4 linked regions of the Homo sapiens genome follow. The protein of the gene in region 1 interacts with the protein of each later gene in a pairwise test. Each region holds a gene or a part of one and is shown in the gene's direction. Other genes may lie near its edges.

Evidence for each region.
Region 2: the proteins of UNC93A (region 1) and SLC48A1 interact in binary tests that used the Homo sapiens proteins (3 or more experiments, as listed by UniProt).
Region 3: the proteins of UNC93A (region 1) and ATP13A1 interact in binary tests that used the Homo sapiens proteins (3 or more experiments, as listed by UniProt).
Region 4: the proteins of UNC93A (region 1) and SLC39A7 interact in binary tests that used the Homo sapiens proteins (3 or more experiments, as listed by UniProt).

The regions. Positions count from the first base shown.
Region 1 is NC_000006.12:167,300,909-167,308,669, forward strand, and holds part of UNC93A (protein unc-93 homolog A), read left to right. Parts: intron 1-3,010; coding exon 3,011-3,225; intron 3,226-5,006; coding exon 5,007-5,142; intron 5,143-6,870; coding exon 6,871-7,002; intron 7,003-7,761.
Region 2 is NC_000012.12:47,768,481-47,776,802, forward strand, and holds the start of SLC48A1 (heme transporter HRG1), read left to right. Parts: upstream 1-4,757; 5' UTR 4,758-4,824; coding exon 4,825-4,960; intron 4,961-8,322. UniProt on the Homo sapiens protein: Heme transporter that regulates intracellular heme availability through the endosomal or lysosomal compartment. In macrophages of the reticuloendothelial system, is the heme transporter for heme-iron recycling.
Region 3 is NC_000019.10:19,646,129-19,653,889, reverse strand, and holds part of ATP13A1 (endoplasmic reticulum transmembrane helix translocase), read left to right. Parts: coding exon 1-106; intron 107-1,169; coding exon 1,170-1,295; intron 1,296-2,092; coding exon 2,093-2,201; intron 2,202-3,949; coding exon 3,950-4,149; intron 4,150-4,226; coding exon 4,227-4,323; intron 4,324-6,130; coding exon 6,131-6,291; intron 6,292-6,361; coding exon 6,362-6,476; intron 6,477-6,564; coding exon 6,565-6,761; intron 6,762-7,542; coding exon 7,543-7,685; intron 7,686-7,761. UniProt on the Homo sapiens protein: Endoplasmic reticulum translocase required to remove mitochondrial transmembrane proteins mistargeted to the endoplasmic reticulum.
Region 4 is NC_000006.12:33,196,089-33,203,866, forward strand, and holds the start of SLC39A7 (zinc transporter SLC39A7 isoform 1 precursor), read left to right. Parts: upstream 1-4,778; 5' UTR 4,779-5,157; coding exon 5,158-5,568; intron 5,569-5,656; coding exon 5,657-5,825; intron 5,826-5,983; coding exon 5,984-6,037; intron 6,038-6,174; coding exon 6,175-6,339; intron 6,340-6,471; coding exon 6,472-6,612; intron 6,613-6,821; coding exon 6,822-7,018; intron 7,019-7,452; coding exon 7,453-7,725; 3' UTR 7,726-7,778. Other genes in the region: RXRB (retinoic acid receptor RXR-beta), read right to left, coding at 346-518, 1,674-1,853, 2,220-2,376, 3,081-3,328, 4,154-4,388. UniProt on the Homo sapiens protein: Transports Zn(2+) from the endoplasmic reticulum (ER)/Golgi apparatus to the cytosol, playing an essential role in the regulation of cytosolic zinc levels.

The DNA.
Region 1 (7,761 bases):
CTCTGTGAAGGGCTGACAGCAAATATTCCTACATGTAAGTATCTTTCTGAGGATCATATGGTCCTTGTTGCAATTGTTCAACATTGTCTTTGTAATGGGAAAAAGCCATAGACAACATGTAAGCAAATGAGCATGCCTGCATGCCAATAAAACTTTATTTTCAAAAGCAGGCAGTGGGCAGGCTTTGGCCCGCAGGCCATAGTTTGCTGGCCCCTGCTCTAGAGGAACAGCACAGGCTTCTCTGTGGCTTCCAGGCCCTTCATTGCCAGCTGTCCTCCGCAGGTGGCTGTTGTCTGTGGAACCTCCCCTGCAGGGTTACCCCCAGTGTGCTCTCTGGCCACAGCCCCATCTCGGTTCACGGAATCCCGCAGCCTAAGGGAGTCCAAGTCTAGAAGTTATGTAGAGCAGAGATCACACACATGTAAATGAAGAAGTGGTCTTACTATTGTGATTGTAACAGTCCTGCAGGATCCTGTGTGTGTCCTTTTCTATAAAGCAAGACCATGTCTCCATAAAGAAAAACATAGGAAGAGAGAAAAATGGACCTAAAAGAACAAGAACACCCTCTCCCTGGGTAACTTTCCTGGGTTTCTGAGCATTGCATTCATAGTCAAGTTTCTTGCAAAGAGCCATTCTCTTTAGAATTTAGGACACAGCTGTGCAGCATCCCCCAATTCATGCCCCACAGAAGGCTCTGAGTCACATGACACCCGGACATACATAATTCTGAACAAAGGGGTGTGGCTTCTGTGTTCATAACCTGCCTCTCCCCTTCCCACAAGGCTTTCGGGGAGATTGTAGGTTGTGTCCTATTGGGCTGCTTGACACTGAAGTCCTGGCCCACAAGACGAGATTGTGAAGAAGGCGCTGCCTTCAGTGAGTGGAGGAAAAATGTGCCTTTTCCACATGGTCTACACACAGTCAGCTCAGGGGGTCGGCTTGGAAGGGGGCCCTGATCATTGTAAATACCCTATGGCCTCCTGTGCAGGCGTGACAACCTGCCAGACCACATGGTGGCCAGGACAACACAGAGGAAAATCAAGGGTGACCAAGAAACACCTGTGGCAGCAGGAGTCCTGCTTTCATACGAAATTTCACAAACTTCATGAGAATCTTGAGTTATGAAATAGGAAGGGGAATATGTTTAGCCAAGATGGAAAGTAGCCAGATAACGGAAAGTAAAGCCTAGAAATAAATCTGCATTTCTAGGTGGAACCACATTACCAATGGTGCTTTCTGAGACAGGTGCTAGGATTCTGCTGTTTCTGCACACAGCTTGGAAGAGAGCTGGCTTTGCAAACCTCCCAGTTTCAGGAACGCTCAGCTGCCGGGCACAGTGCTGCAGCAAGTCCACTGCATGGGTCACACGAGGACACTGATGCTGAGAGAGAAAGCACTAGATAAGGTTGGTCAGGCACAGTAAGATAGGATAATTCCCGTCGTCTTTAGAGGAGCAGGGGTCTAAGTTCTCGGAGGTAGAAATGAACCGTTCTGAAAGATTCTGGCCCAGAGAGAAGGGAAGGATCGCCACCACTCTTGAGTCATCTGTGGTGCCCCAAACACTGTGTATCATTACCACTGCCAGGTGGGAGGAAAACAGTGGAGATGCAATGGTATCACAGACGGCACTTACAATCATGAGGGGACGAAAGGGCTTCTAGTAAAGTGAGAAACGCCTAAATAAACATCAGTTCTCCATCGACAGAAATTGAGGTGGATCAAATAATAAAGTGGTGGGCAGATGGAGATTTAGTCATATTTTGGAATTATGAGAAAGTACAGGATGTTTCCTCATGGATGAAATGAATAGTTAAAATATTTTTTTGTATAGATAACCCATTTATATAGTTCAAAATGCAAATCCAGGAGTCCCCCTTGTCCCCATTTCATTTTGTGTGGCTTCAGTGACCTGAGGCTAGCTGCGGTCTGAGAACCTTAAGTGGAAAATTCCAGAAATAAATAATTCATAAGGTTTAAGTTGCGCTTGTTCTGAGTAGTGTGATGGAATCTCTTGCCGTCCTGCTCACCCCGCCCAGGCTGTGACCCTTCCCTCTGTCCAGCGTGTCCGCACCATAGATGCTCCCCGGGCCATAGTCTCTCAGTAGCCACCTCTGCTGTCAGAGTGAAAATCCGTGGTACATGTAGAGTCTGACACCACCCGTGGTTTCAGGCATCCGCTGGGGCCTTGGAATGAACCCCTTTGGGTGGGCAAGCACTGCACTGTAAAAGGGTGTGCGGTGGGGAGTCTCCCTCTCACTGCCGTCCTCAGACCCCGTTCTGCACCCATAGAAAGTCCATGCCTGCTTTATTCCTAGACATATTTAATGCACATATAAACAAGCACATCTTTATGTCCTTTCTTACTAAATTCAATTGGTAGCGCACTCTACACAGAGGTCTGCATCTTGCTTGTTTTTTCTCTTTTTACCATTTATGGTGGGGGATTTTCCCATCCGTGTATAAAGAGCTTCTTTTTTATTTTCTTCAAATGCACAACATTCTGTTGTAGTTCAGATACCCCTTAATATCTTTAACCAGTTCTTATTGGAGGACTTTTGCACAAAATTGTTTATTTGAAATAAACAAAAGTGTAGCAAATGGTACCTTGTGGGAATCATTATCCTAAAAAAAAAATCAATAAAAAGCTGTCTCCTGTTAGAAATTGCGTTGGGGATTAGAATGAGAAGCAGAGTCCAATGGTTAAGGACACTCAGAACTTCTGGGGTCGCTCCGGAATTTTTTGTATTTTATGCCGGTGAGGACAATACTGACCTATTGTGGCAGGTTTCATGTGAAAGCCGGTAAGTCTTGAGGTAATCAGAGAATCAGCACGATCAAGTGCAACTAGACACCTGAGATCCTTAAGCATGTTGTGTCTAATGTCGCCTGAAATCTGGATCTGAATTAGCCCTCCCTCGCGAGAGGAGGATGAGTGACTGAAACAAATCCTTGCCAGGCACCCTGCCTCTGGGCCCCCATGAAAGCTGAAGCCTTTGCTATGTCCTTTCAGGGAGTGGTGTCCTGGCTGTCCTGATGATAGCTGCGTTCCTCCAACCCATACGAGATGTTCAGCGGGAAAGTGAAGGAGAGAAGAAATCAGTACCTTTCTGGTCCACTTTACTGTCGACTTTCAAGCTATATAGAGATAAACGTCTGTGCCTCTTAATTCTGCTGCCGCTGTACAGTGGATTGCAGCAAGGATTCCTCTCCAGCGAATACACAAGGGTATGAACGAAAGTGAGGGCCGGTGGCTCAGGCCATGCGTGGCATCACTGCCTTGCCTGTGTCTGTACCTGCAGGACCGCAGAGTGTCTCAGGCCACCTGCCCAGGGCTGGGGCTGGAGGGAGCGGGGTCCTATGCTCCCAGTGCTACCATAGCTGAGTTTATGATTCAAGGTCTCAACCTCCAAGTAACTTCCAACTCACAGGAGCTTCCACTTCTTGTCTCAAGGGAGAACGTCTTGCTTGATCCGTGTCTTCCTGGGGAAGGAGCCGGAACAAGTGGATGGGCAGCTGCCGCTGACTCACCCCACAGACACTCATCGGTGTTACCCCTGCCTGGACCTCACCCTGCACTCTTACTTTAGAGTTTACATATAGGAAAAGCATTAAGTCCATGAATACCACCAAAATTTCTTATCTCTCTAGTTTTTTTTTTTCTTTCTTTTTTTCTTTTTTTGAGATGGAGTAACACTCTTGTTGCCCAGGCTGGAGTGCAATGGCGCCATCTCAGCTCACCGCAACCTCTGCCTCCCAGGTTCAAGCGATTCTCCTGCCTCAGCCTCCCAAGTAGCTGGGATTACAGGCGTGTGCCACCACGCCTGGGTAATTTTGTATTTTTAGTAGAGACAGGGTTTCTCCATGTTGGTCAGGCTGGTCTCAAACTCCCAACCTCAGGTGATCTGCCTGCCTCGGCCTCCCAAAGTGCTGGGATTACAGGCATGAGCCACTGTGCCTGGCACCTCTAGTTTTCAAATCATGCTTCACAATCTAAAAATCGATGTGGCTCTTGAAGCTTCTGCTCCATCCACTCCTGCCACCTTCTCCCCTCAAGGTGAGAGAGGCGGTGCCCCACCTCAGGGTGCATAAAGAAAGAAGCCACTCCTGGAGGCTGTTGAGAGCTGGGGGCCAGAGCTGGACCAGCAAGGGCCTGTGTCTGGCAGAGGCTCTCCTTCCGGAGGAAACTTCTCTGCTCCAGATCCCTCCCAGGCAAGGCTGCCAACTTAGCAAGATAAAAAGCACCTCAGCAGGTAGAATTTGAATTTCAGATAAACCACAAATGTCTCTCCAGGAGTATGCCCAGGCCATAGTGGGTGTCCTCAACTTTATCTGGCAGTGCTACTTTTAGGACAGCCTTGATGGAGAATCTTAGGAGCTTAAAAGAGTAGAAACAGGATAACAGAAAGGTCTACTTGGCGTTTTGGGGACAGCCCCTCCTGCTCCTCCACTGGACTTGTCCTTGTCCCCCCTGATGTGGCTGTGGCTGGTCTTCTCGTCTCAGTCCCTGTTCTGCGTGCCCGCCCTTGAGGTCGCCCGTGATGGGAGTGTGGTGCGGTGGGCATGAGACACATGTGCAGCCGGCTGCTGGGCTGCTCTGAGGCCCCGGAAGAGGTGTCAGGGCAATCTTTTCATTTTCTCTTTCTCTCTCTGTTTTTTTTTTAACTCTCTTTAGACCTAACAGGTAATGATTGGCCCCAGCAAGGGCAGGGTGTATTGGCTTCCATATAAAATAGTGCCCATTTCACAGCAAATAGTGAGAAATACATGAGAAAGAATTTTGTCTGCAGTTGTCCAAACTGCCTCCTTTTAGTTCTCCCCAAACAGGATTTTCTTACAAACACCAGCTTTTCTCCTGCATGGGAGCCACAGAGCCTAGAGGAAGGTGTAGGCAACACTGGCCTGCTGGCCATCTCAGAGCAGATGTTCTAAGCACCCGACTGCAGCTTTAGCTTGAGCACGGGAGGCCTGGGAGCGTCCATGACGTGGCTCTGCACCCCTCTCCCCAGTCCTATGTCACCTGCACCCTGGGCATCCAGTTCGTCGGCTACGTGATGATCTGCTTCTCGGCCACTGACGCGCTGTGCTCCGTGTTGTATGGAAAGGTCTCGCAGTACACGGGCAGGGCTGTGCTGTACGTGCTGGGTAGGTATCAGCGTGGGTCCCATCCCAGCTGTCATAACGATTTGCAGTAGCAAAAGCGCACAGCTCACAGTCAGGACAGGCTGGAAAAGTGCCCCTGAAACTGCTTTGAAATCAGTAACGCCCTGTAAGATGCATTCATTCTTTCAGTCCTTTCTTCACCCCCTCAACAAGCAGGAATCAGATCTCTCCCCAAGCTGGCTCTGGGCAGGCACTGTGCTCGGCATGAGGCCACACAGCAAGTGCCTGCTCCGAGTGGGCACTCGGTGTGGTGACCAGGCCAGGGTGGGGCAGGGCAGGGTCTCTGCAGGTGCAAATGAGGGACACGAAGCCAGTGGTGAGGCCATGGGGTTCACGGAAAGACACGCTGGGGTTGGGGCAGCTCTGTTCCACATCTATTCACACAGTGGATAAGGACAAGACTTCTAAGGCCACAGACTCCTCCCTAAACACACAGCACCTTCCATTTTTCTTGGGAAGGGAAGGGAAGAGATGAGTCAGAGATCACGTGAACAATGAGGAATGCAGGCACTACGAAAAACAGCGCCTGGCATGTCAATGCCCCAGGCAGGGCTGGGTGTGGGGGCGCAGCCAGAGGAAGGGCACACGGTGAGCATCTGCCAGGGCCATGGAGCCTGGAGGCTCTGCCTGGGGTTTCCTATCCGTCTTCACGGCGCCCTGTGAAGCAGACAGTGTTCCCTTACAAATAGGAGATCATGGAGTGCAGAAGTGGAGGGACTTGCCTAAGGTGGCACAGCCCTGGGGCATGCGGTGTGGACCTGCCTTTCCGCTGACAGAGACCCTGCTCTTCCTCTGTGGCGTCTTGAGCGTCAATGGGCAGCCTCATTACTGCATCCTAGAGATGCCACAGCCTGTGGAAATTGGGGTCCCAAATCTGTGACCTGCTGGGACGAGTCACAAGGTGGGGCCCACAGATGCTACCTGCCTGGGGGGTCTGTGGCCTCCTCCCTTTTGTCCCCATGCCCCTACTTGGAAGGCTCAGATGAAACCATGGGCACACTTTGTCCTACCCCCTGGCTACTCGGAAAGGTGCTGGGATGCTTCAATTTATACCTAATGAGAAGGCCCTTCTCTTTCTGACTTTAAACCCTCTTAGCTTAGGGGCAACCTCAGGCCCAGACAGGGTGACCTTCCTTCCCAACATGATGCCAGACCACACCCAAGGCCCTCCAGGCTGAGGCTGCGGGTCACGCAGCAGGTGTATGGTGCAGAGCATTGATTTAGAGCTAGCAGCACGCATACACATCAGCTCACAAATTAAATGTCAAGGTTCCAACTAAAAAGACGACTTCCAGAGCATTAAGGGAACATTGAGCATGAAGCAAACATTGAGACAGTTCCAGAGGATGGTTGAGACGGTTGAGATGGTTGAGACAGTTCCAGAGGACGGTTCCAGAGGACGGTTGAGATGGTTCCAGAGGATGGTTGAGATGGTTGAGACGGTTCCAGAGGACAATTCCAGAGGATGGTTGAGACAGTTGAGATGGTTGAGACGGTTCCAGAGGACGGTTGAGATAGTTGAGATGGTTGAGATGGTTCCAGAGGACAATTCCAGAGGACGGTTGAGATGGTTGAGATGGTTGAGACGGTTCCAGAGGACAGTTCCAGAGGACGGTTGAGATGGTTGCTCCAGCACTGACCCACCTCCAGGCCCCTCCAGGCCATGATGATGGCCCTCATCGCCTGGCGGTTTCCCCTCTGCACCCCCAGGCGCGGTGACCCACGTGTCCTGCATGATTGCCCTACTGCTGTGGAGACCTCGTGCTGACCATCTGGCAGTGTTCTTCGTATTCTCTGGCCTGTGGGGCGTGGCAGATGCCGTCTGGCAGACACAAAACAATGGTGAGTCCCCAGCCCAGGCCCCTTCCTCTGTGGCAGCAGGGGGCGGTCCCTGGCCAAGGCAACTGTGGGGCTCATTAGATGCCAATGGGCCAGAGCCAAGAGAGATGAGTTGGGAGAGACGGGAGGGCCAAGAGGGCTTTGATGTCGCCTCTGAGTCTGATGTATTTTCTCTGAGCATTTATTCAGATTCATGATGCAAAACTGGAAAACCACCCAAGGTTCCTTCTGGGCACCATTCCCTCAGGATGATGTGGTTTTGCTTAAGTCAAGTCGCCCATTCGAGCTGGGGTGCAAGACTCTCTACCCCTAGGACAGCAGTCTCTTCATGACTGAAAACCTTTATTCAGATGTGCTTGTGAGCAGAGGCACACTCCCGTGTACCTGGGCCTGGGGTGTAAACATGCAGAGCCTTCCAAGGAGCCCACGGGACGATGGGAGGTGGCAGTGTGAGCCACAAGCCACACACATCACAGGTCACTAGGGTCAGTGTCTGTGGACGGGGCTCTGGGGCATCCTGGGCAGTGGTGGGTTTTCTGGGAGCAGCAGGTGGGGGCCCTGTGGATGTGGGGGAGCAGGGGAGGCCAGGGTGGGCTTCCTCCTAGAGGCTACATCTGCATCACGTATGGGCTGACCACTGTCCAGGTGGGGTGGGGTGCAGGAGGAACCAGGGCAGGAGGTGGCAGGGATGCTCCAAGGCCTTGCTGGGGCTGGGGCCCCTAAGAAGGCGGCCTGGGGGGAGTGCAGAGGAGTGGGGTGGAG
Region 2 (8,322 bases), on another chromosome or scaffold:
AGAGGAAAGGGAGGACTCAGAGATAACACCTAGGTTTGGGTCTGAGCCACAGTAAACAAAGACATGCCCCAGGGACATCAGAGGTCTCTCTGCATGGGGATTAACAGGAGAGGAGGAAGCCCTGACATGTCCAATAAACTCAATCATCTGGAAGATAGCTCAGTAGGTGTATCCTTGACCCAGCATTGTGGGAGAAGATATGTCTGGAATGTGTATATCTGCGGGGAGTGAGAAAGGAATGTCAGCAGTCAGGATGTCTGCAGATGGGGAATTAGAAATCTGTCTTAGTGTTGGTGGGACCCAGTTCAAAAGAGACTTCAGAAGGATTGATGGTTTAGACGGGTAATCTATATAGGACCTGTTTAGATGAACTTCAGTGGAATGAGGGATGATGTATTAGGATAATAAGGTTAGCTGTAACAAGCAACTGAGCTGTAACAAAGCCACTGACACTTCTCACTCATATTCTATAGTCCAGTGAGGGTCTAGGGGACAGGGGTAGCTCTGCTCCATCCATTCATTCAAGCCTAGGTTCTTTCCATTATGTGGTACATATGGCCTCTAAAATTGTCACAGAATGGGAAGAGGGAATGCAGGTTGTATGGAAGATTTTTAAATGAGCCCAGCCTAGAAATGGCGCACATTGCTTCTGCCTTCATTCCATTGTTCAGAACCTGATCCCATGGCATCCGTTTGACTGCAAGGAAGCTGGGAAGTGTAGTTCAAATTTGGGAGGTACTGTGCCCAGAAAGAGACACACAAATGTTGGTGTGTGTTGTGGAGCACTAGTAGTTTCTGGCGCAGGCAGGGAGAATGGCTGTGCATCTTGTAGGGGTCGTAGTAGTGTCTGTCCTGGGCTGGGTTGGGAGTGTACTCTCTGAGAATACCTTGGAAGGAAGCTGATATGAGAAGATGTGTATGAGTGGTGCACACCCATGTGCTTTATGGCTCAACAATCATTCCATTCTTTCCCATTCTCAAGGTCTTTCACTGGATAAGATCTTAATTCTCTCACACCTTACCACTGAAATAACCTTGTGAATGCTTTATCCTCTACAATTTTCCCCCATCAAATCTAACTGGATATTATAGTCTAACTAATCTTCCTAAGACTTGGCGTATGTCATGCAATCCCTGTTCAATAAAAACAATAACAATTTCAACAGCAGCAGCAATAATTTGTTGAATTACTGTGTTGAGCACTTTGAGTGTATTATCTCAATATATCTCGATCTTTGTAACAAGCCTGTGATGTTTCATCATCATTCCCTGTGTACAGATGGAGGGACAGGAGTCCTGGGTCTAGCTGTGCTAACACAGTAGCCACTAGTCATGTGCAGCTACTTAAATTAATTAAATTAAATTTAAATTAATTTAAATTAAATACACTAAACTTAAATACATTAAATTTAAATTAATTTAAATTAAATACAATTAAAAATTCAGTTCTTCAGTCACACTAGTCACATATCAAGTATTCAATAGCCACCTGTGATTAGTGGCCACCATTATGGAGGGTGCAGATATGGAATATTTTCTTCCAGGCAGAAAGTCAATTGGATTGGACATCTGTGAGTTAGGGGCACTTGCCCAGGGTCACAGCAAATGGTGAAGCTAGGCCTCTGACCCCACCTGAGTCTAATGCTCTGCAATAGCTCTTCATTGTTTCCACAATTTAAAAAATGTTTAAGCCTGGCCTTAGCCTTGTACAACCTGGTCTAGTACTACTGTTACATAATTATTTCTCTTTCTTTTCTTGCGCAATCTCACTTTCCAGCACAGCAAGCTTGCTCACTGCTCTCCCATACTCCTAATATGTCCACTCATAATATTTTTGCTCTCCTCCTTCTGTCTGCTCAGCTAATGAATTCTCCCCTGACCTTTAGGTTCAGATAGCTGAAATAGCTCTTGAAGCAGTTTCGTCTCTTCCATTCTCTCTGCTTCTGCCTGGACCAGCTCTGAAGCCCCTCATCCTCTCTTGCCATGGCAGCCTTCTGCTGCTACTAATTCTACTTCCTGACATTTATTGAGTATCTACCATGTGCTAGGCACTCTTCCAGGCACTCCTCATCACAACACTTTGAAGTAGGTGTTACTGCAGTCTCCATTTTAAAGACCTGGTAATTAAAGCACTGTGGGGTGAAATTTGTCCAACTCATCTCTCTGCTTCTAGTGTTTCACAGGCAGTTCGCCTTCACTCTATTACTCTGGCCATAGTTCTAAAACACAGAATTGTGAGTTTTCTCCCCCAGCCCCAAGGGGAGGGGGACAGCCTTCTTAACAGAGCATGCAAGGCCCTTTATGTTCAGAACCTTTCTAATCTCCAAACCCGCTACTCTACCTTCAAACTTGACATTCCAGCCACAAACGACTTACAGTTTCCCAAAGCGGCCGCTTTATTTCTTCCCTCTGCGCCATCACACGTGCGGTTCCCACTGCCTGGAGTACTGTCCATCCTGGCCAGCTCTGAAGCCATCCATGGAAATGCACTCCGGACCACGGGGCTTGCTCCCTCCTCCACAGGACCAGCACTCACTCTCCACCGGCAGCTCCTAAAGGAGGGCTGCTGCTGAGCTCACAGCCTTGACATCACTTCTCATTAAAATACACACTCCAAGATTCAAAATTTAATAGGCAGGGGTGGGGCTGGGTTTATTTTTTTATTTTTAAAGAAGCTCCCAGATTATTCTAGAGTGAGGCAAATGTGCTTAACACTGGTTTACATCCCTTGTTTGGCAGTTAAGCACACCCTGTCTAGATTCCTTGTGTATAATTGCTTTTGTTTTTATTTTATTCTTACCTTCATTCACTCACACTCACCTATTCAACAAACATTTATTAAGGGGTCATTATATGCCAGACATGCTTTTAGATGTTGATGTGAACAAAACTGGCACTGTCCCTGCTCATGAAGTTTATGTTCCAGAGGGGGTGTGGTGGGTGGGATAATAATGGCCCCCAAAGATGTCCACGTCCTCATCCCAGAACCTATGAATATGTCACCTTCCACGGCAAAGGGATTTATTTTGCTGATGTGATAAAATTAAGGATCTTGCGATGGGGAGATTATCCTGGACTATCCCCTCAATCACAGGGGTCCTTAGAAGGGAAAAGGAGGAAGAGGGAGTTAAGGCATGTGGGTAGCCTCACTCTAGAAGCTGGAAAAGGCGGCCGGGCACGGTGGGCTCACACCTGTAATCCCAGCACTTTGGGAGGCTGAGGTGGGCGGATCACCTGAGGTCAGGAGTTCGAGACCAGCCTGGCCAACATGGTGAAACCCCATCTTTACTAAAAATACAAAAATTAGCTGGGTGTGGTGGTGGAAGCGTGTAATCCCAACTTCTCGGGAGGCTGATGCAGGAGAATCACCTGAACCCAGGAGGCAGAGATTGCAGTGAGCTGAGATCACGCCACTGCACTCTAGCCTGGGTGACAGAGCAAGACTCCGTCTCAAAAAAAAAAAAAAAGTCAAGGAAACTGATTTTCCCCTAGAGCCTCCAGAAACAAGGCAACCCTGATGTCCCCTTGATTTTAGCCCAGTGAGACCATTATTTGGATTCCTGACCTACAGAACTGTAAAATAATAATAAGTTTGTGTTATTTTAAATCAGTAAATTTGTGGTAATTTGTTACGGCAGCACACACACAAAAAAAACTAATGCAAGGGGTATTGGTTATGTTTTGTGCAGGTATATGATGGGCCTCCCCATGTGGATCCTTAGTGCTGTGGCAGAGCCCTTGTTATTGTGCTGGGATTTTCCCTCCAGCTCCCGGCCGGAAGCTGGGCTCACGTGGGAGCTCAGTGCCCTCCTGCTACAGATCTGTCTCTTCCTTACAATGGTATGATCCCGAGGGTCAGGGTGAGGGGTTTGGGAGGATAAGGCTTGTGCTGATAAAAGGAAAGGTGAGGTCCGTTGCAGTGGCTCAAGCCTGTAATTCCAGCGCTTTGGGAGGCCGAGGTGGGAAGACAGCTTGAGGCCAGGAGTTGGGGACCAGCCTGGGCAATATAGCGAGACCCTATCTCTACAAAAAATAAATAACAAAAAATACTAGCCAGGCGTGGTGGCACACACCTGTAGTCCTGGCTGCTTGGAAGGCTGAGGTGAGAGCATTGCTTGAATCCAGGTGTTGGAGGATGCGGAGCTATGATGGCGCCACTGTACTCCTGCCCGGGCAACAGAGTGAGACTCTGTTTAAAAAAAAAAAAGTAGGGATTTGTGGGGAGCTGTGCGTGAGGATAGAATGTATAGAATGTTTGCAGTCAGAAGGTGATGGTCGCAGGGGTTCCCAGACTTTAGTGTGTGGAGAAATCCTCTGCGATATGGTGGGAGGGAACCTGGTTGATAGAAGGACGGGCGGAAGGAATTCTATTCACAGCGTACTCTAATATTTCTTAAGTTTTACCTATTAATTTTTAACAAGAAATTTTAATTTTAATTTTAAACGAAAATACGCATCGTACTCAGAGGTAAAGATTTTTAATCCTCGCGGTTCGCTCGTATAAAGGCATATTTCCGGTCCCTTCCAAGGTCCAACAATCCGGACACGGCGGGTCTGGGGATGGGCCCAGGAATCCGCCTTTTTAGCAGCATTCCCCCAAACGACACGGCAGCTTCGCAAAGCGGCGGTGGCGTCTGCGGTTCCGGGCGCGGGCGGCCTCCGGCCGGGGAGGGCGCTGTGCGGGCGGCGCTGGGGGCGGGCCGGGGGCGGAGCGCGGGGCGCCGGCTGCTCTGGCGGCTCCCGCGGCTCCGGCTGGCGGCTTCGGGCCCTGCACCTGTGACTCTCGGCCGCGCTCGCCCTCGGCCCGCCCGGCGCCGCAGCCCCATGGCCCCGTCCAGGCTGCAGCTCGGCCTCCGCGCCGCCTACTCCGGCATCAGCTCCGTGGCCGGCTTCTCCATCTTCCTCGTCTGGACGGTGGTCTACCGACAGCCGGGGACCGCGGCCATGGGAGGGCTCGCAGGTACCCCGGGACGCTGGGCGGCGCGGGGCGGGTGCGCGGCTGCGGGGCGGGCGCCGTCAGCTGCTCCAGGACGCTCCCCGCGAGCGGCGCTTCCCCGCGGAGCGGGTGGAGTGTTTACTCGAAAACAGCGGTTGGCGGCGGCAGGCCCCACGCGGGCCCGGGCTCCTGGGCATTCCTGGGTGCCTCTGAGACCCGATGCCCGCCCGGGCGCCACCTGGGGGTGCCGACGGCCCGCCACTGCCGGCTGCACAGACCTGCCGCGCCGCCCGGGTTATCTGTCACGGCACACTGCCTGTCGCCCTCCGCCCAGTTGCCCCACGACAGTGTCCCCTCCGCGCGCCCGCGGCGCTGGTCGCCTCCTATCCCCAAACACACACACACACACACACGCACACACACACGGTTGTTCTGAGGGATCCCCTGCCCCCCAGGCGCCCCTTCCCTGGGTGCTGGGTGAGGGCAGAGAGGGAAGAAGTGGGAAAGGAAGAGGGCTAGGGGTGGCTGGGGAAGCCCATCTCCCTCCTTCCAGAGGGCTCCCCCGCAGAGCCCTCTGCTGAGACCCACAGGGAGGACGGCGTTAGGGATCTCATAGAAACTGGACATTCTCTTTCCACCCATGTTGGTGCCTTTTTGCTACCCGTCTGCTGTGGCTCCTCAGCCAAGCTCTGCCAAATCCTGCAGGCCAGCCGCCCTTTCTGTGCTTCTGGGAGGGAAGGGGAAGCATCGGTGCGCTGATGGGGGCTCTGGGCTGACCAGTGCTCCTTGTTGTGCACATTTGGGCTCGCAGTTTAACCTCTCTGCGCCATAGAATTGGTATGAAGATGAAAAATATTATCTCTACTTTCTAACATTTTAAAAAATGCTTTCTATGTGTCAGGCACTATGTTAAGCAACCTGCTTCCCTTATTTCATTTAATCCTTACATTAGTCTCATGAAGTAGGCCTTACGATTATGTCCATTTTACAGATAAGGAAACTGAGGCCTGAAGTTAAATAAATTGCTTACCCGGGATTACACAGCTACATGAAATAATATGTGTGGGAAAGGACTTTGGGAAGAAAATACGTATAATACTTTTACATATGATGATTATATTCCATTACTAAAATCCTCGGCCAAAAGAACCCTAAATGGAATAACTAAAAATAACTAATTTACTCACTGCCACAGGGAGTGCTGAGTGCCATCCCTGGGTAGAGTCGCAGCATGAGGTGGGGTTAATGCCTTAGAAGAGGGGCATACAGGGCCCCACCCTACACAATGCCAACAAAGCACTGGGTCACCAAGAAGGGGGGATGGGCACCCTGGCTAGGGTGTTCTCTGCCTGCCCAGCTGCCTCACCACCTGTGGGATCCTGAGGACAACTGGCCCATCTCTGCGCGTTATCTACAGAGCCCTAGTTCCTTTCCCCACTGCACCCCGCCACCCTCCATGTTTGTCAAGGTTCACTTCTCCCTGCCACTTTTTTGTTTCCTATTGGCCCTGTTGCTTTCCCCTCTGGAAGGCGGCGTCAGAGCCCTATGATTGCATTGCGAAGACCGAAGGCAAGAGAAGGATGAGCAGGGAGGGCCAGCCTGGGATCTCAGCTGGTTGTGTTGAGTCTGGCCTGGTACAAGTGGAGGTGAACCCTACCTGGCCGTTTGACCCTATCCTGGGCCACAGTTTCCTCATCTATTAGGAGTGGGAGGAGATGTCCCCAAAAGACATCTGACTTCCCTCCAGATCTGAAATCTTGCAGTGCTGCCCACTCCCTGAGTCTCCAGCTGCCTCCTAGAGGGCTGTGGAAAAGGCCTTCTTTCTTATACTCTAGGGAGTTGCCTGGGGTTTTCTTCCGACCCAACTCTGCCCTCTCTCCCTCCCCACAGGCTTCCCTTGGCCTATGAGGCAGGCCAGCTGTGGAGCTGCCTTCAGAGAGAGGCGCTAGGGCAGCAGCTCGCTAGGGCAGCAGCTCGCTAGGGCAGCAGCCAGCTGGAGTAGGGTCCTGGTATCTCCCTGATGGTCTGATCTTTGACAGTGGCTGTGGAAGAGCCAAAACTGCTTGGTAGTGGTGGTGGTGGATGGTGGCAGGGAGAGGGGTTGCCAAGCCTGGGCCTCCGACCTTCCCCACCATGAGTGAGTTCTCAGAGGGTCTGTGGCCAGTCAACCTTCTTCCTCTTTTGGGGGTAAAGTGTCAGCAGATTAACTAACGTGTGAGCACCCTACTTCTGACTCAGCGTTTTATAGCTCAGAATCTGCTGAGTCACCCAAGGGTAGCCCCAGCATGCTCCTTCTCCTGTGTTGGACCAGGCAAGGACTGATTGGATGTGCCAGTTTCTGGAGCAGAGTCATGGAGCCCCTGGGTCTGGTGGGCAGAGTGTTCACGGGTGGGGATACCCTCTCCCATCCTGATGGGTACCTTCGAAGAAGTGGCTTTGGAGAAAGGCAGTGGCAGAAGCAAGACTGGCTTTCCTGGGGAGGCGGGCAGGTGTGGGTTGGATCTACCTGGTCTGGCTTTGCTGTGGGAGTCCTGGGGGAAAACACAAACTCTTGCTCTGGGTTTAGTAGACCAAGGAAAGAGAAAAAGAAAAGTTGCTCCTGAAGTCTAAACAGCTCTATGTTTTTCCCAGGTGAGCTGTGAGCAAGAGCCCTGGGGCTCCAGGACTGTCTTCCTCCTAGGAAGGAATAGAGGGGCCTGACCTAGGCCCAGTGTCCTTCTTGTCTGCATTTACCCTGTGGGATCCCCCGGGTGTCTCCTGTCTCCTCACCTCCAGCCCAGCCACTGGGGATGCTTTCACCGCCCTACCCTATGCCTTCCTTACCCTTAGCTTATCGGCTGTGAGCCAATAAGCTCACATGGCTAAGCAGGGGCTCTGCTCCTTGAAACAGGTAGGATGGAGCAACGGTGTGGTCTGGTGTGGGCTTGCAGCCAGGTGGGATTGGGGACCTGTCCATTCCACCCCGAGTTTTATAAACCAGGCTTCCTAGAGTCCCCAAGTGTGCCAGGGAAGGGTATTAGGGAGATACATTGCCTCCTGCCTGATGTGTGGGAGGGGACCAGTGAGGGGCTCCATCTCCTTCAGTGACCCCCTTGGGTAGGGCTGGTGGAGAGCTCCCTTCCCAGGAGGGTGGTGGGAGCCAGGGCGTGGGCAGCAGGCCTGCCTCCACACTTGATGTGTGTTTATCTGGAGGGGAGGCCTCTGTGCAGGGCCTGGAGCAAGGTTGAGGGAAGGTGAGAGGTGGGTAAACCATGCCTGTTGTTAACAAAGAACAGGGCCCAAAACGCCCCCAAATGGCTGTCTTCCTCTCCCTCCTGCCCTCAGCCCTCTTTGGTATGTGCATGTACATGGGGGTGGGAGTTTTGGGGAACCACTGGATCGTGGCC
Region 3 (7,761 bases), on another chromosome or scaffold:
CCAGTGCCCGCCCGACTACCACCACATCCACACCGAGATCTCCCGGGAAGGAGCCCGCGTCCTGGCGCTGGGGTACAAGGAGCTGGGACACCTCACTCACCAGCAGGTACGGGCCCAGGCTCCCCCTGCCTTCACCATGTGCCTGGCCCGTCAGCTCCTCCCTGAGTCACCTCCTGTGTCCCACAGTGCCAGGTTGAATGGTTGTGATTTTGTCCTCCTTGCCCCGCCTCCAGCTTCTACCTTTGGAGACTCCAAATGGCACTCAGTCTGTCCACTGCTGTGGGGACCCACCCAGTCCTGGCTCACGCAGAGCACACGCAGGGCTTACCTGCCCCAGTCCTGGTGTGTCCCTAGCTCTACTCTTTTGCCCTGGTCTTGGGCAGGGCTAGGTGGCATCCTCAGCCCTCTCACCCATCCATCCTCCACAAAGCCCACCCTCCGCCTCCACCACCGGCACATCTGCCGCTTGGCTTCTTCCTGGGCTCTCGTTCTTTCTGCTTGCACCCTACAGCTGCGGATCCTTCCAGAATTTAGCCTCAGGTTGCAGTACTGTGTGCAGAGCCCAGGCCACAGCTCACAGCCTGCATGCTCTGCCCCGTTCCTGCACCTGGAGCCCCCTTCCCAGTGACACAGGTCCTCATCGCCTTCATAGTGGCCACTTCTGAGGCCTTTCCACCCTCTCTGGATTCCATTCTCACCTCCTCTCTCATGGCACTCAGCACTCCGATTTCTGTGACTTTCTTGATCATGCGTCTCCCCTGGTGCAGTGTGAGCTCCCTAAGGCCAGGGGTCTGTGCCCAGTCTGTGGTATGTGGTGGAGCCCCAGTGAGTAAGAGTTCCTGGCTAAACTCCAACATTATTGGGAGAGTCCCTACTTCATTGACTTGGAAGCTGAGCCACAAGGGACTCTGTGATGTGCCCATGTCCGCAAGCAGGACATAGAGCCACATTCGGGGGACCCAGACCCCCCAGTCACTGCCAGATCCCACCCCTCAAGCGTGCCTGGTACCCTCCTGGCATTTCTCCCCTCCCAACCCTCGCATGTGCCCACTACGGGAACAGGGCCTTCCATTGTCCCCTTGGCTCCCAGCGCATGGTCAGAGCTCAGGAAATGCAGAGTGTGGGCAGAGGGAGGGACAGATGGTGAGGGTGCCCCTGTCTGTCCGCAGGCCCGGGAGGTCAAGCGGGAGGCCCTGGAGTGCAGCCTCAAGTTCGTCGGCTTCATTGTGGTCTCCTGCCCGCTCAAGGCTGACTCCAAGGCCGTGATCCGGGAGATCCAGAATGCGTCCCACCGGGTATGGGACGGTGCTCGGCTCCACCCTCTGCATGGGAAATAGAGGCGAGGAGATGACAATTACAGCTTCGTGGTAGGGGTGGGCACCCAAGTCTCACAGGCTGCATGTTTTAGCTGAGCAAGATCATAGCTCAGGTGCTAACATTGCCACTGGCCCAAGGACACTCTGGGACCCGCCTGTGCTGGCTCCTCTCTCCTCCACAGACCACTCCCTTCACTCCCCGCATCATGGGAAGATGGGGGCACTTCTCTCCACTTCCCCGTTCCACCGCCGTCCTGGAGAGAAGGAAGCTGAGGCTGGGGAGTTGGGTGGGGGGCACTGTCTGCCTGTCCTGGTGGCTTCTGGTGGCTTGTGTTTTCTATTTTGGGACTTAGGGTGTCTTTTAGGGTGTAAGGGGTGAGTGAGCCGTCTCAGAGGATGATGGCTCTGGGTCACATGGGTGATGTGATTAGTCCCCACCAAGCCCAGAGGTCATGGTCCCATCCTCCTCTTTGCTGAAATATTACCCCCATGGGCAGCTACCAAGCCAAAAGGGTCCACCTCAGGGGCAGGTTGTTCATTTGTATTGCAAATCCAAGCTAAGGGTGTCTTCAGAAGGACGCACATACACGTGTCATTTGTGTAAAATGACCTGGGTGGGGGTGGGTTGTGGCCCTTGGAAGCCCATTCAGCATCTCGGTTAGAGGCCCAGGATCTCCCACTGTGGCCTACCTTAGAAGGAGACTTGGCAGCCTTGTCTCTGGCCTAGAGCTTGGCCCCAGGGTGCCATGCTGAGCCTCTGCCCCTCTTTACCCAAGGTGGTCATGATCACGGGAGACAACCCGCTCACTGCATGCCACGTGGCCCAGGAGCTGCACTTCATTGAAAAGGCCCACACGCTGATCCTGCAGCCTCCCTCCGAGAAAGGTGAGGCCCTAGCCTGGCCCACAGTGGGGAAGGGGGACCCTGAGTCCAAGAACAGCTCCCATCGCAACAGCCCACCTGTGTACCAGGCCTCAGCAGCACAGTGTCTTCAAATGCCTGGCACCACTAATCACAGCCCTGGCCCACTGGGCACCTCGGACAGCATGTGAGCGTTCACTGGGTCGCAGGTCCCAGGATGTGCGGCATGTAGGTGTTTATTTACCATAATGAGGCGATAGTCTGACTGCCAGCTCGGGTTTCCTGTGCACTCATGGGCAGATACTGCTCCTACCACGCTTACTCCCCATCCTCAGTGTCATCCTCATTTCACACCCTCTTTGGCCCGGCAAGCTGCCCATGTACCGAGTGCTCCCTTCCCGAGCACAGGGACTGCTGGCATCCTCAGCCACAGTTGATGGCAGTTTGCCCAGTGCTCAGCCTGACCAGACCCCAGGCGGAGCGCTCCGTGCGTGTTACTGCGTTGGTCCCTCCACCCCATCCTGCACCACACGGGGTGGCTTGCCTTCCCCACACCACAGAGGAGGAAGCTGGCTGGGTCAGCTCTCGGGGCCCTGCTTTGTAGAGAAGGGACAGAGGCTCAGAAGTGAACCCACTTGCCCAGGTCACTTCCAATCCATGGCTAAGGATTGGAATCCAGACAGCCTGATTCCAGAGCTCAAGGCTCCAACCTCTCCCCAGTGACCTCTTTGAGCAATGCCCTGGATTCAGATTGATGAAGAGGCAGACATAGAGACCCAGCCCCTCCCAGCTAGAGGTGTGGGGCTTACCAGATACCTGCCCCAGAGCTAGAGGTGAAGCCCCTGTGGGCGCACGCAGTTCAGGACCTGCATGAGTGTTGACAGGGCCCTAAGAAGAACCACATGGAGCAGTGTTGCCACAGGGCTGCTGGCAGCAAACATTCACAGGTCTGGGCCAGAGCAGCTTCCGGAACCTCCAGGCCACCTCTCAGAGGACTCGGTCCCTGCCCTCCCTCTGTTCTATTGGTCGCAGGCCTCCCCCTGTCCCAGCCCCAGCTACCGGGGTCTTCCAGGGCCTGGGGATTGTGGGCAGGTGGCATGGAGCGGATGAGCAGAACTGTTGATTGACAAGCGAAGCTGGTCTAGCAACAGCTGCAGCACAAGCCAGGTGGAAGTGTGCTGCCCTTCAGCTTGAGATGGTCCAGGGTGAGCAGGCAGTGCCAGGAGGGCTGGCGGGCCGCCCTTGGCCATCCTCAGCGCCCAGCATCCAAGCCAGGGCCAGCCAGCAAGAAAGGGGAAGTGGAGCAAGAAGATGTTGAGAACTCAGGGGCCCTGTCAGAGTTGGGAGGGGGCCCAGCCCCGAGAAAACAGGATTTCAGAGAGGCCACGGGCGCAGGGATAAATGAGGTGAGGGCCTGGTGTGGGGTTTCCCAAGGAGAGCGCAATAGCCCCCTTCTGTGTGTTTCAGGTTAGGGGGCCTTGCATGAGGTGGGGGCATGGCTTAGCTGGGGTCAGACTGCCCAGGTTCTAATCTGGCTGTGTCCCGGGCTCTCAGGCAAGTAGCTCAGGCCCCAGGCTCTTGGTTCCACCCTGTGCACCTGAGGGACATTCTTTGTGGAGTCCCCAGAGAAGGGCTGGGGGTCACCTGGGTGGGTAGGGAGGTGCGGGCTCCAGAGAGGAGAGACTGGCTGGTGCTGGGGTCCGAGTGGAGGGAGGGTGCTTCTGAGCCCGGTCAGCCAAGCCCCCAGCCCTAACCCTAGGTGCTGCCCGCAGGCCGGCAGTGCGAGTGGCGCTCCATTGACGGCAGCATCGTGCTGCCCCTGGCCCGGGGCTCCCCAAAGGCACTGGCCCTGGAGTACGCACTGTGCCTCACAGGCGACGGCTTGGCCCACCTGCAGGCCACCGACCCCCAGCAGCTGCTCCGCCTCATCCCCCATGTGCAGGTGTTCGCCCGTGTGGCTCCCAAGCAGAAGGTATGTGCACAGCCCTAGGGGTCAGGGGCACAGCGGTAGGCACGCAGCCCCTGCTCAGCCTGTCTCCGCCCATACAGGAGTTTGTCATCACCAGCCTGAAGGAGCTGGGCTACGTGACCCTCATGTGTGGGGATGGCACCAACGACGTGGGCGCCCTGAAGCATGCTGACGTGGGTGAGTGCTGTGGGCTAGGGTATTTCGTTTGTGGACGAGGTGTTGAGGACATGTCACTGAGCTAGAAAGACAGACCTGGCCCTTGGTGACAGCCACGGGGGCACTAATTCCTGTGAGGATGGGAGGGGGTGGCAAGGTCAGGGGCTTTGAGGGCAGGAAGGGATGCGAATATCCCAGGAACAGAGCAGGGCGGAGGCCAGAGGCCAGGAGAGAGGCAACAAGTTGGGAGAGTGACTCAGAAAACCCAGAGCTGAAGCCATGAAGATGGTTCATAGCCCCAGATCTCTGTCAAAAGCACACAGATGGCTGAGCACTGTGGCTCCTGCCTGGAATCCCAGTGCTTTGGGAGGCTGAGGCGGGAGGATCACTTGAGTCTGGGAGTTCAAGGCAGTGGTGTGATCCACTCTAACCTAAGTGACAGTGCAAGACCCTGTCTTTTTTTTTTTTGACGGAGCCTTGCTCTGTCACCCAGGCTGGAGTACAATGGCACGATCTGGGCTCACTGCAACCTCCATCTCCCGGGTTCAAGCGATTCTCCTGCCTCAGCCTCCCAAATAGCTGGGATTACAGGCACGTGCCACCATGCCTGGCTAATTTTTGTATTTTTAGTAGAGATGGGGTTTCACCATGTTGGCCAGGATGGTCTCCAATTCCTGACCTCAAGTGATCCACCCGCCTTGGCCTCCCAAAGTGCTAGGATTACAGGTGTGAACCACTGCATCCCACCGAACCCTGCCTTTTTTTTTTTTTTTTTTTTTTGAGACAGTTTCTCTCTTGTTGCCCAGGCTGGAGTGCAATAGCACGGTCTCAGCTCACTGCAACCTCTACTTCCCGGGTTCAAGCAATTCTCCTTCTTCAGCCTCCCAAGTAGCTAGGATTACAGGCGCCAGCCACCATGCCCATCTAATTTTTGTATTTTTAGTAGAGATGGGGTTTCACCATGTTGGCCAGGCTGGTCTCCAACTCCTGACTTCAGATGATGCGCCTGTGTTGGCCTCCCAAAGTGCTGGGATTACAGGTGTGAGCCACCTCACCTGGCCTTTTTTTCTTTTTTCTTTTTTTTTTTTTGCAAGAACTCAGGTGTTAAATTGAATTTTAAAGATCAATCTTACGTTGGTTTTTTTGCTTTTCCAATATTTATCTGCTTTTATCTACTAAAGCATTTATTGAGTGTTGTTTGCCTCCTAGAATCATGCTCCTTGGCTATTTCTTTTGAAATCAGTTTAGGTTGTTTTGTTTTGTTTTATTTTGAGACTGTCTCGCTCTGTCGCCCAGGCTGGAGTGCGGTGGTGTGATCTCATCTCACTGCAACCTCCGCCTCCCGGGTTCAAGCGATTCTCCTGCCTCAGCCTCCCGAGTAGCTGGAATTACAGGCACATGCCACCACCCCTGGCTAATTTTTGTATTTTTAGTAGAGACGGGGTTTCGCCGTATCAGCCAGGCTGGTCTCAAACTCCTGACCTCAGGTGATCCGCCCACCTCAGCCTTCCAAAGTGCTGAGATAACAGGTGTGAGCCACTGCGCTCGGCCAAAATCAGTTTAGTTTTGACCTATCTCGTGTTGTGTGTTTTTTCATTGCATTTGTTGTGGGGGTTTATTGTTGGTGGTTTGTTTTCTTAAAGTAGTTTGTAGAAAGCAACACGGGCACTCTCTGAGGTCTCCTTAGGGTGTCAGGTGAAATGGGGAAGTCTGGGAACTGTCCTCACGGGAGCCAGCTGGGGGACTTCAGGACCAGTGGCTCTGAAGCCAGCAATCTTCCCCTCCGTGGAGCCTGCTCCTCCGGGTCTGACACCCTCCTGCCCCCCAGGTGTGGCGCTCTTGGCCAATGCCCCTGAGCGGGTTGTCGAGCGGCGACGGCGGCCCCGGGACAGCCCAACCCTGAGCAACAGTGGCATCAGAGCCACCTCCAGGACAGCCAAGCAGCGGTCGGGGCTCCCTCCCTCCGAGGAGCAGCCAACCTCCCAGAGGGTGAGTCCCAAGAGGGGAGGTGCTGCACCCCATCCTGGCCAGGGCTGACAGCCTGCTGTCTACCCTGCAGGACCGCCTGAGCCAGGTGCTGCGAGACCTCGAGGACGAGAGTACGCCCATTGTGAAACTGGGGGATGCCAGCATCGCAGCACCCTTCACCTCCAAGCTCTCATCCATCCAGTGCAGTGAGTTGCCTGCCCCCGCTCCCCCTCCCTTCATTCCCCCCTTGGCACCCCTACCCACACCCACACCTGCCTCCCCACCACCCTGCAGTCTGCCACGTGATCAAGCAGGGCCGCTGCACGCTGGTGACCACGCTACAGATGTTCAAGATCCTGGCGCTCAATGCCCTCATCCTGGCCTACAGCCAGAGCGTCCTCTACCTGGAGGGAGTCAAGTTCAGTGACTTCCAGGCCACCCTACAGGGGCTGCTGCTGGCCGGCTGCTTCCTCTTCATCTCCCGTTCCAAGGTGGGCCCCAGAGGTGCTGGAAGGCCAGGGATGCATGGGCCTGCCAGGGCCAGGCTGATATAGGCACGGGAATTGTCATCCCCAAGTTACAGGACCCAGGGCCCCAGAGATGGGGGCTGTAGCTGGGATGGCTCAGGAAATGCTGGCAGGGCAGGTGTGGACTGAGGCTCCCAGACCCCTCCAGGTGGTACAGCTTGGCGTCCACACCTGTCCACAGGTAGGGGTCCCAGGGGTGGGCCCCACAGAGCCCCACAAGCAAGGAACAATCATCAAGAGGGTAAAAAAACAACTAAGTGGGTCATAGGCTACACAGGACAGGCTGGTGGACAGCTGGGGAGGCCTGTGCGACACCGACACTCAGGCCAAGGCGTAAAGAACCAGGGGGGCCAGCGGCCAGGAACTGGACACAAAGGCCCCAAACAGGCATGGGCTGACGCAGGGAGTCCCCGGTGGCTGGAGGGGGTGGGAGATTGGCTGGGCGGGACTGTGCCTGTCCCGTGGGCTCCAGGGAGGGCAGGATCTGCTTCATGATTCTCAGGCCCCTGTGGCTGCCATGGGGAGCCTGGATGGCGGAGCCGGGGCCAGGGAGGCAGCCCTGGGCTCAGGGGTGAGAGGCAGGCAGGGATCCAGGGACTGGTGCTGACCCATGGAATCCCCCAGGATTTGGTGGTGGCTGTACACAAGGTCTCCCGGGAGGCAGGGGATGTTACTGCCTGCTGTGTGGGCAGGGTGGCCCCAAGTGAGCCAGATCCTGACTCCCCCACCCGCCTTGCTGCTGCAGCCCCTCAAGACCCTCTCCCGAGAACGGCCCCTGCCCAACATCTTCAACCTGTACACCATCCTCACCGTCATGCTCCAGTTCTTTGTGCACTTCCTGAGCCTTGTCTACCTGTACCGTGAGGCCCAGGCCCGGAGCCCCGAGAAGTAAGTGCTGCCTTGGAGGAGGTGATGTCCCTGCAGCTGAGAATAGCAGGAGGATGACTCCACAGACTTCAGCAGG
Region 4 (7,778 bases), about 130 Mb from region 1:
CCCCTTGTAAGAGGCTTTTGACACCCCCTCCTTACATATAGTCTTCCTGTGAGCCCCATCCAAACCAATCCCTGTAAGTGAGTCTTCTCTTCTGGCATTAGTGCAAACAATTATTTATTTGGGACATGCCTATGGTTCTGCCAGTGGGTTGTTTGGGGAGTGGAGACAGAAGGAGCTATCACATCCACCTCAGATGTTTGAAAGACCTTGTTTGGCAGCACCTCCAGTCCCAAGTAGTGTTAGGAAGGTTATGAGGGGAAAGGAGGGGGAGGGGATGTAGAACAGACCTAGACTGCCTCCCCCAACCCCCATCACGAAGGAGAGTGGATTGACCCCAACACTCACGCTGCTGCCGCTACCCCCGGTTCCCCCAGGACCCTCAACGCCCTGGTCACTCTTCTGTTCCACAGCAAGCTCTGCCTCCAGGATCCTGTCCACAGGCATCTCCTCGGGGGCTCCCCCAGCCCCCTCCCCATCCCCATCCTTGTCCTTTCCCCGCTGACGCTCCTCCTGTACCGCTGCAGGGGGAAGGGGGAGAGAAAAAATGGAAAGTCAGCAGCCAGCCATGAAGGGGTTCCACAAATATCCTTACGGCCTCATCAGGATCTCATGGCCCTTGGGAGATATTTATAGGAATTGGGGAAGTCACTAGAAAGGGTGGACTGGGGGCAGCCCTGAAGGAAGGGTTATAAAAGGGCAGGTAAGTCAGTCGGGAAGGGTGAGGTAGGTAAAAGAATTAGGGAGGAATTTAAATGGAGAGCCTACTACATGGTTAAAAAAAACATGCCAAGATTCAACCTGAGAAAGCTGATTGAAAAAAAAAATTTTTTTAAATAAAATATGCCAAGAAACATGCTAAGCACATTTTACCATTCACTCAATTATCATAATGATGCTGGAAGCATTTATTCTCATTTTTAAGATGAAGAACTCGGGGTTCAAAGAGATTAGTTTGCTTAAATTCATATAATACATGGCAGGTCATACAACTGACTCTAAGTGTGTCTGAGTGCAAATCTTGTGCTCTTCTGACTCAACAAATAGGCAGTGAAAGGAGCACTGGCCTAGGTCTTTGAAGATGTGGGTTCTGATCCCAAACCTGCCTGCCACTCCTTTGTTGCATGACCTTGGGAAAGCCAAGCCTCAGGCTCATCTTCTCTAAAGTGGGTGTTTTGACCAAGATATGCTCTAAAGTGTCTCTCAGAATCCTAGGAATCTGACTTAAGAAGATAAGATGGAGACACAGAAGAAGGAAGGGAAGCCCTGAGGTCTTCAGTAAAGTCTGTAAGCTTAAGAGTGCCCAGTCCCAGGAGTTAGAGGAAAGATCACAGATAACAGGAGACAGAGACCAGAGAAGGTCCATGGAATCAGAGGAGGAACCACTCAGGTTAGAAATGGGGAGACAGCCCATCATGGCTAAGGAAAAGTTATCCTATCCTAGGATCAGTCTAGGGAGGGGTCATATGTGCAGGCCACAGAGGCCTAACCATTAAGAAGGAAACTCAAGGGCCAGAACAGGGTAACAGGGAGGAGAGCTGCGAAGGGAGAGAGAAATCAAATATCGCCCTCTAGAGGAGAGAGAGCAGTCCACCCTTCCAGAGAGGTACACAGTCTGAGTGGGATAAGGGAGAAGGGCATGTGGTCTAAGACGCCTGGGCAGGGCGGGTCCTTACCCTCCCTCTTCATGCCAGTGGCCAGGCACTTCTGATAGCGGCAGTACTGACAGCGGTTCCGCTGGCGCTTGTCCACTGTGCAGTCTTTGTTGTCCCGGCAAGAGTATGTAAGGTCTTTGCGGATGGTGCGTTTGAAGAAGCCCTTGCAACCCTCACAGCTGTAAACCCCGTAGTGTTTGCCTACAGGGAAAGGGGAGGAGCAATAAGAAGGTTGCATGGAGACACCTTCACCATTTAGTCTGTTTCCAATCTCCCCCTAGCAAAACTTAAAGTCCTCCCTGTTTGCCAAATACAGAGATAGGGAACCAGGAGCTGAGTGATGATCCAGTCCCAGTCTCCTCACTGTTCAGAAACCCTACACGCTGCTTCCTTTTCCCTCTGACCTTCCCCCCAATCGCGTCCTACATCTCAGCTTCAGCTTCTTTACTCCCATCAGGCCTCCCCCAGGTCACTTGCTCTGACCAAACTCCATAAGCCCTGGGAATCCCACAGGTGATGATACATGGCCCAGACTCTCCCTCTCTGTTCATCCTCTGAGCCACATACCTGAGCTTCTGTCCCCGCAGATTGCACATAGCCGTTTGCCAGCCCCAGGGCCACCTGGAGGGGGTGGACAGTGCAGGCCCCGGACCCCTAAGACTGGTGGCTTCACATCTTCAGGGGGGCCAGACCCACCCCCAGGGAGTGACACTGTTGAGTTAATCTGGGATGGGGGAAATAGGGAAGTCACAGGAAGACTTATTGGGAAGCAGAATGTCACAGAAGTGATGGAAATCATTCCCTACCACTAAGCAAGGCCCTGCAATGCACATTCCAGAGGCTGTCATTTACACTGCAGTCTATGTGAAAGGCCATCCCTGGAGCACAACCCCAAAGTGAATAAACAGGCCCCCCCTGAAATTGTGCAACACAGTGACCCTGAAGGGCAGGTGTCTTGGGAAAGCAGATGGGATCAAAAGGGCAGAAAATCAGATAGATGAAAAGGACATCAAGAATATCAGAATTAGCCGGGCGTGGTGGTAGGCACCTGTAATCCCAGCTACTCAGGAGGCTGAGGCAGGAGAATTGCTTGAACCCAGGAGGCAGAGGTTGCAGTGAGCTGAGATTGTGCCACTGCACTCCAGCCTGGGCAACAGAGCAAGACTCCATCTCAAAAAAAAAAAAAAAAAAAAACACACACACACACACAAAAACAAAGAATATTAGAGTTCTTTTAGGGGAGGAAGCATGCACTGAAAGATCAGTCACCTCAGGAAAGGCAAGGGGTCTCATAAAGACCACAGGCCTGACAAGGTTAGAGGATTGGAAGGTCAATGGGCCATGGGGAAGTTCACACAAGGATCTGGGGTTACAAGGAAAACAAGAAAATGAAAGTGGCCAGGCAGTAAGTTGGTCACAACCTCTCACCTGGGGGCTGCTGACAGGCCCGGAGAATCCTGGGGGAGCTGGAGGGGGCAGACCAGGGGACCCCATGGAAGAACTGATGACTGGAAAGGGAGAGCCCAGTGGGGGTGGTGGCATCGGGGGTGGGGGTGGGGCCCCAGAGCCTCCAAGGGATGGAGCTGTTGAAGGGGGTAGGGGTGGCCCAGGAGGAGAAGGGGGAGGGACTCCCTGGGGAAGGGGATTTGGGGAGGAGCTGTCTGGGCTTCGGGAGTCTGAGGGAGGGGTATGTACAGGCACACAGACACACAAGAGACAGAAGAGACAAAAAAAGAAAATGAGTCTTCAAACATCCAACTAGAGACTTTAATTCTCTAATACCCCACCGTGCCGGACCCAGCCCACTCCACCCATCCCCAAGTTCAGAGACACCCTGCTGTCAAACAACAGTGTAACTCCGGCTGGTCCGATGGTAGTGGGTTATCAGAACTTATTAACATTTGTGTCACTAAAATTGGTATACAACCTCCCACTGCTATATTTGACTGGCTAAAAAAACCCAAAAACAGCGTAACTCCTCATTGTGGTGAGAGGAGGGAGTTGACAAGGAGAGGAGGATAGTTCAGGTGAGGAAAATTTTCCAACCAATCCATTTGAATGAATACCAGGTCATCCCAAAGCCACACCTGTCTCGTGGGTGGGGCAGCACGTGGGGTAGACCATCGAGCCCCTCTATTCCCAGCGTAAAGCCAGGTAGCCAGAGCGTGCAAGGGAAAGAGACAGGCAGGAGAGACCCCTCCTAAGACGCAGGATCTGCCTGTAAACGCCCAAAGTCCTGAGGTTTAAGAGGAATCGTGCCCTTCCCAGGCCCGCGACCTCCGGTGCCCAAGGCCTCAAGCGGTCACAGCTAGGAGGGCGGAAGCTCCCCTTCCCCGCCCCGCCCCGGGGGGGAGGGTGCTAAGGCCCTCGGGAGGGAGGGGACGCGTGTTTACAAACAAGGGGGCGGGAGCGCAAGGAAAAGAGCACCGGGGGAGGGTGTGGGGGAGGGGTCGCAGATAAAGCGGTCACTGGCTCGCCTGCCCTTCTGCTGGGGCACTCACCCCGCCCGCTGTCGCCCATCCCGTCCCGTCCAGCCTCCCCTGGCTCCGGCTCCGGGGTTTGTTGTTCTCCGCCTGCCACCGCCGCCGCCGCCGCCGCTGCGGGATCCAGCCAGGGCCGTCGCCGCCGCCACCGGGACGCGACCCCACAATGCATTTCTTTTCGCACCCCCACCGGCCCACACTGCCCTGCGGCATGCCGCTGAGGGAGGAAGGGCGGGCGAGCGGCCCAAGACATGATCCCTGGCTGAGAGTAGGGATACCGAAGAGGTCCCAGGGATTCCCAAGGATTGATCGGAGGATTAGCTGAGCACGAGGAAGCCCCTGAGAGAAAGACTCTGGCCTGGATTGGGTCGAATTAAGCCCGTCGCTCTGCTCAGTACCAAAATGACAGCGCCAATGTGGCAGCCATCTTTGTACAGACGGGAAGTCTCGGCGCGAGTTCCCGCCCCCTCGTCTAGTTGGAAACCGAGGAGGCGGTCTCCTCCGGCCTGTTAGCCCGCCTCGCCCACCCTCCCCTCAAATCACCTCCACACTCGCGCATGCGTGTCAGTGCAGGATGGATTCGTCGCTACCGGAGTGCCGCCATATTGGTAAAGGCATTAGGGCGAAGGTGGAACGGAACTTCCTGTTCTCGCGGGATCTAAAGGCGGGACTGCCACGTCCAAGCAAACCGGGAAAGGAGAGGATCCCGGAGCCGGTGAGAATTCTCTGTTTTTTCTCTACCATCCTTTCCAGGCCTTTTCCTCACCTAATGAGTCGTAGAGACGAGGGCCCAGAGAGTCTGTAAAGTGGCTGGTGAAAGATTAGTGTCCCAGGGCCCTACATCCGGGAGGTGGTTCGGGATAAAGAGAACTAGTCTTGGGAACAATGTAGGTGGGAACTTAAGGGAATGGGAGAGCGGCCCATAGAGGTGGACGGAGGGCGCGATTGGAGTAAAGCGGACCCTGTGTAGGTATAGAGTTGAGTCAAGTGGAGTCACTGCCTCTGTCCCTCTGGTCAGCGTGATGGCCAGAGGCCTGGGGGCCCCCCACTGGGTGGCCGTGGGACTGCTGACCTGGGCGACCTTGGGGCTTCTGGTGGCTGGACTCGGGGGTCATGACGACCTGCACGACGATCTGCAAGAGGACTTCCATGGCCACAGCCACAGGCACTCACATGAAGATTTCCACCATGGCCACAGCCATGCCCATGGCCATGGCCACACTCACGAGAGCATCTGGCATGGACATACCCACGATCACGACCATGGACATTCACATGAGGATTTACACCATGGCCATAGCCATGGCTACTCCCATGAGAGCCTCTACCACAGAGGACATGGACATGACCATGAGCATAGCCATGGAGGCTATGGGGAGTCTGGGGCTCCAGGCATCAAGCAGGACCTGGATGCTGTCACTCTCTGGGCTTATGTGAGTCTCCAGGGGATGGGAGAGAGAAGGGCTGGTTCTGGATTGTTGGGAAACTCCACAGTACTTGACCTTGACTCTCCCTCACCAGGCACTGGGGGCCACAGTGCTGATCTCAGCAGCTCCATTTTTTGTCCTCTTCCTTATCCCCGTGGAGTCGAACTCTCCCCGGCATCGCTCTCTACTTCAGATCTTGCTCAGTTTTGCTTCCGGTGGGCTCCTGGGAGATGCTTTCCTGCACCTCATTCCTCATGCTCTTGGTAAGTAACCTCTGACTTCTACCTCAAATCTAACCTATTTCGTTCTTTGGAGGAAAAGGGTTCTTTCTCCTTTATGATCCCTGACCTTTCGATATTCCCCCAAATACACACTCATTGTGTCAGATATTCCCTCATCTGGTTTTCCCCCCTTCTTCCAGAACCTCATTCTCACCACACTCTGGAGCAACCCGGACATGGACACTCCCACAGTGGTGAGGAAGAGACAGATGGGGATGGGAGTTGGGGTGCTGGGGAAGGTCCGTCTCTCCCTATTCCTCACCTCCCGCACTTGAGGAGGAGGAGTCTGGAATGCACATCTCCCTTAATGTCTCAATGCCTCCATTCCCAGGCCAGGGCCCCATTCTGTCTGTGGGACTGTGGGTTCTCAGTGGAATTGTTGCCTTTCTTGTCGTGGAGAAATTTGTGAGACATGTGAAAGGAGGACATGGTCACAGTCATGGACATGGACACGCTCACAGTCATACACGTGGAAGTCATGGACATGGAAGACAAGGTGAGCCCAGGAACAACTTTCCTGAAAGCTGACTTGCCTGCCTCAGAATCTCCTCATCTTATGGCCCTCAGGAGGGAGAGGACATGTTGGAAGATCTGTTCTCCACTCTGACCAACTCTTTTCTTCCCTCAGAGCGTTCTACCAAGGAGAAGCAGAGCTCAGAGGAAGAAGAAAAGGAAACAAGAGGGGTTCAGAAGAGGCGAGGAGGGAGCACAGTACCCAAAGATGGGCCAGTGAGACCTCAGAACGCTGAAGAAGAAAAAAGAGGCTTAGGTAAGGGCCAGAGTTGGTGATAAATTTGGGCAAGGGACATCATCACAAATCACATGGAATATGTGCTGTGGGTAATGGCAGGTATCTGAGAAACACTAAAGGACTGGGTGTAAAGTGGTCTCTGAGGGGAGGTGTGAGAATAGCTGACCAAGACTGGAACAAGTGGTGATGGAAGCCTCTGATCATTTTCTCTTCTTGTCCTGTACAAGACCTGCGTGTGTCGGGGTACCTGAATCTGGCTGCTGACTTGGCACACAACTTCACTGATGGTCTGGCCATTGGGGCTTCCTTTCGAGGGGGCCGGGGACTAGGGATCCTGACCACAATGACTGTCCTGCTACATGAAGTGCCCCACGAGGTCGGAGACTTTGCCATCTTGGTCCAGTCTGGCTGCAGCAAAAAGCAGGTTGGTGATGTCTGCCAAACACAGCTGCCTCAAACCCTTTATCTCTCCTCACTCACCCTAAACCCAAACAGCCTCTTATTAGTTCCAAACAATTCATACTGTCATTGACAAGTCCTCTAGAAATGAGGGGGAAGAAGTTCTGGTTACTTTGTCCTTTAGCTCAGTATTTCTTAAACTGGTCTATAAACCATCTGAATGGTTTAGTGGAGTCTTACACACACACGCCTACTCAATCAGAAAGTCTGTGGAAAGGACCTCTGATCTCTTAAGATTTTTCAGAAATTGTCTATTCTAGACTGCTCCCTCTTCTCTTTTTATTTTGATGTTTAGTTTCCAAATCCATGTCCCCTATACCTATACCCCACCAGCCACTTCTAAACCACTGATAATCTTTAGCTATTGGTGAGTGCCTTTTTCTCTTTTCTGCCCATCAGGCGATGCGTCTGCAACTACTGACAGCAGTAGGGGCACTGGCAGGCACAGCCTGTGCCCTTCTCACTGAAGGAGGAGCAGTGGGCAGTGAAATTGCAGGTGGTGCAGGTCCTGGCTGGGTCCTGCCATTTACTGCAGGTGGCTTTATCTACGTAGCAACAGTGTCTGTGTTGCCCGAGCTGCTGAGGGAGGCATCACCATTGCAATCACTTCTGGAGGTGCTGGGGCTGCTGGGGGGAGTTATCATGATGGTGCTGATTGCCCACCTTGAGTGAGGGGTGGATAAACTACCCCTGCCCCAAACCTCTACCCCTAACTCCAGGTCAGG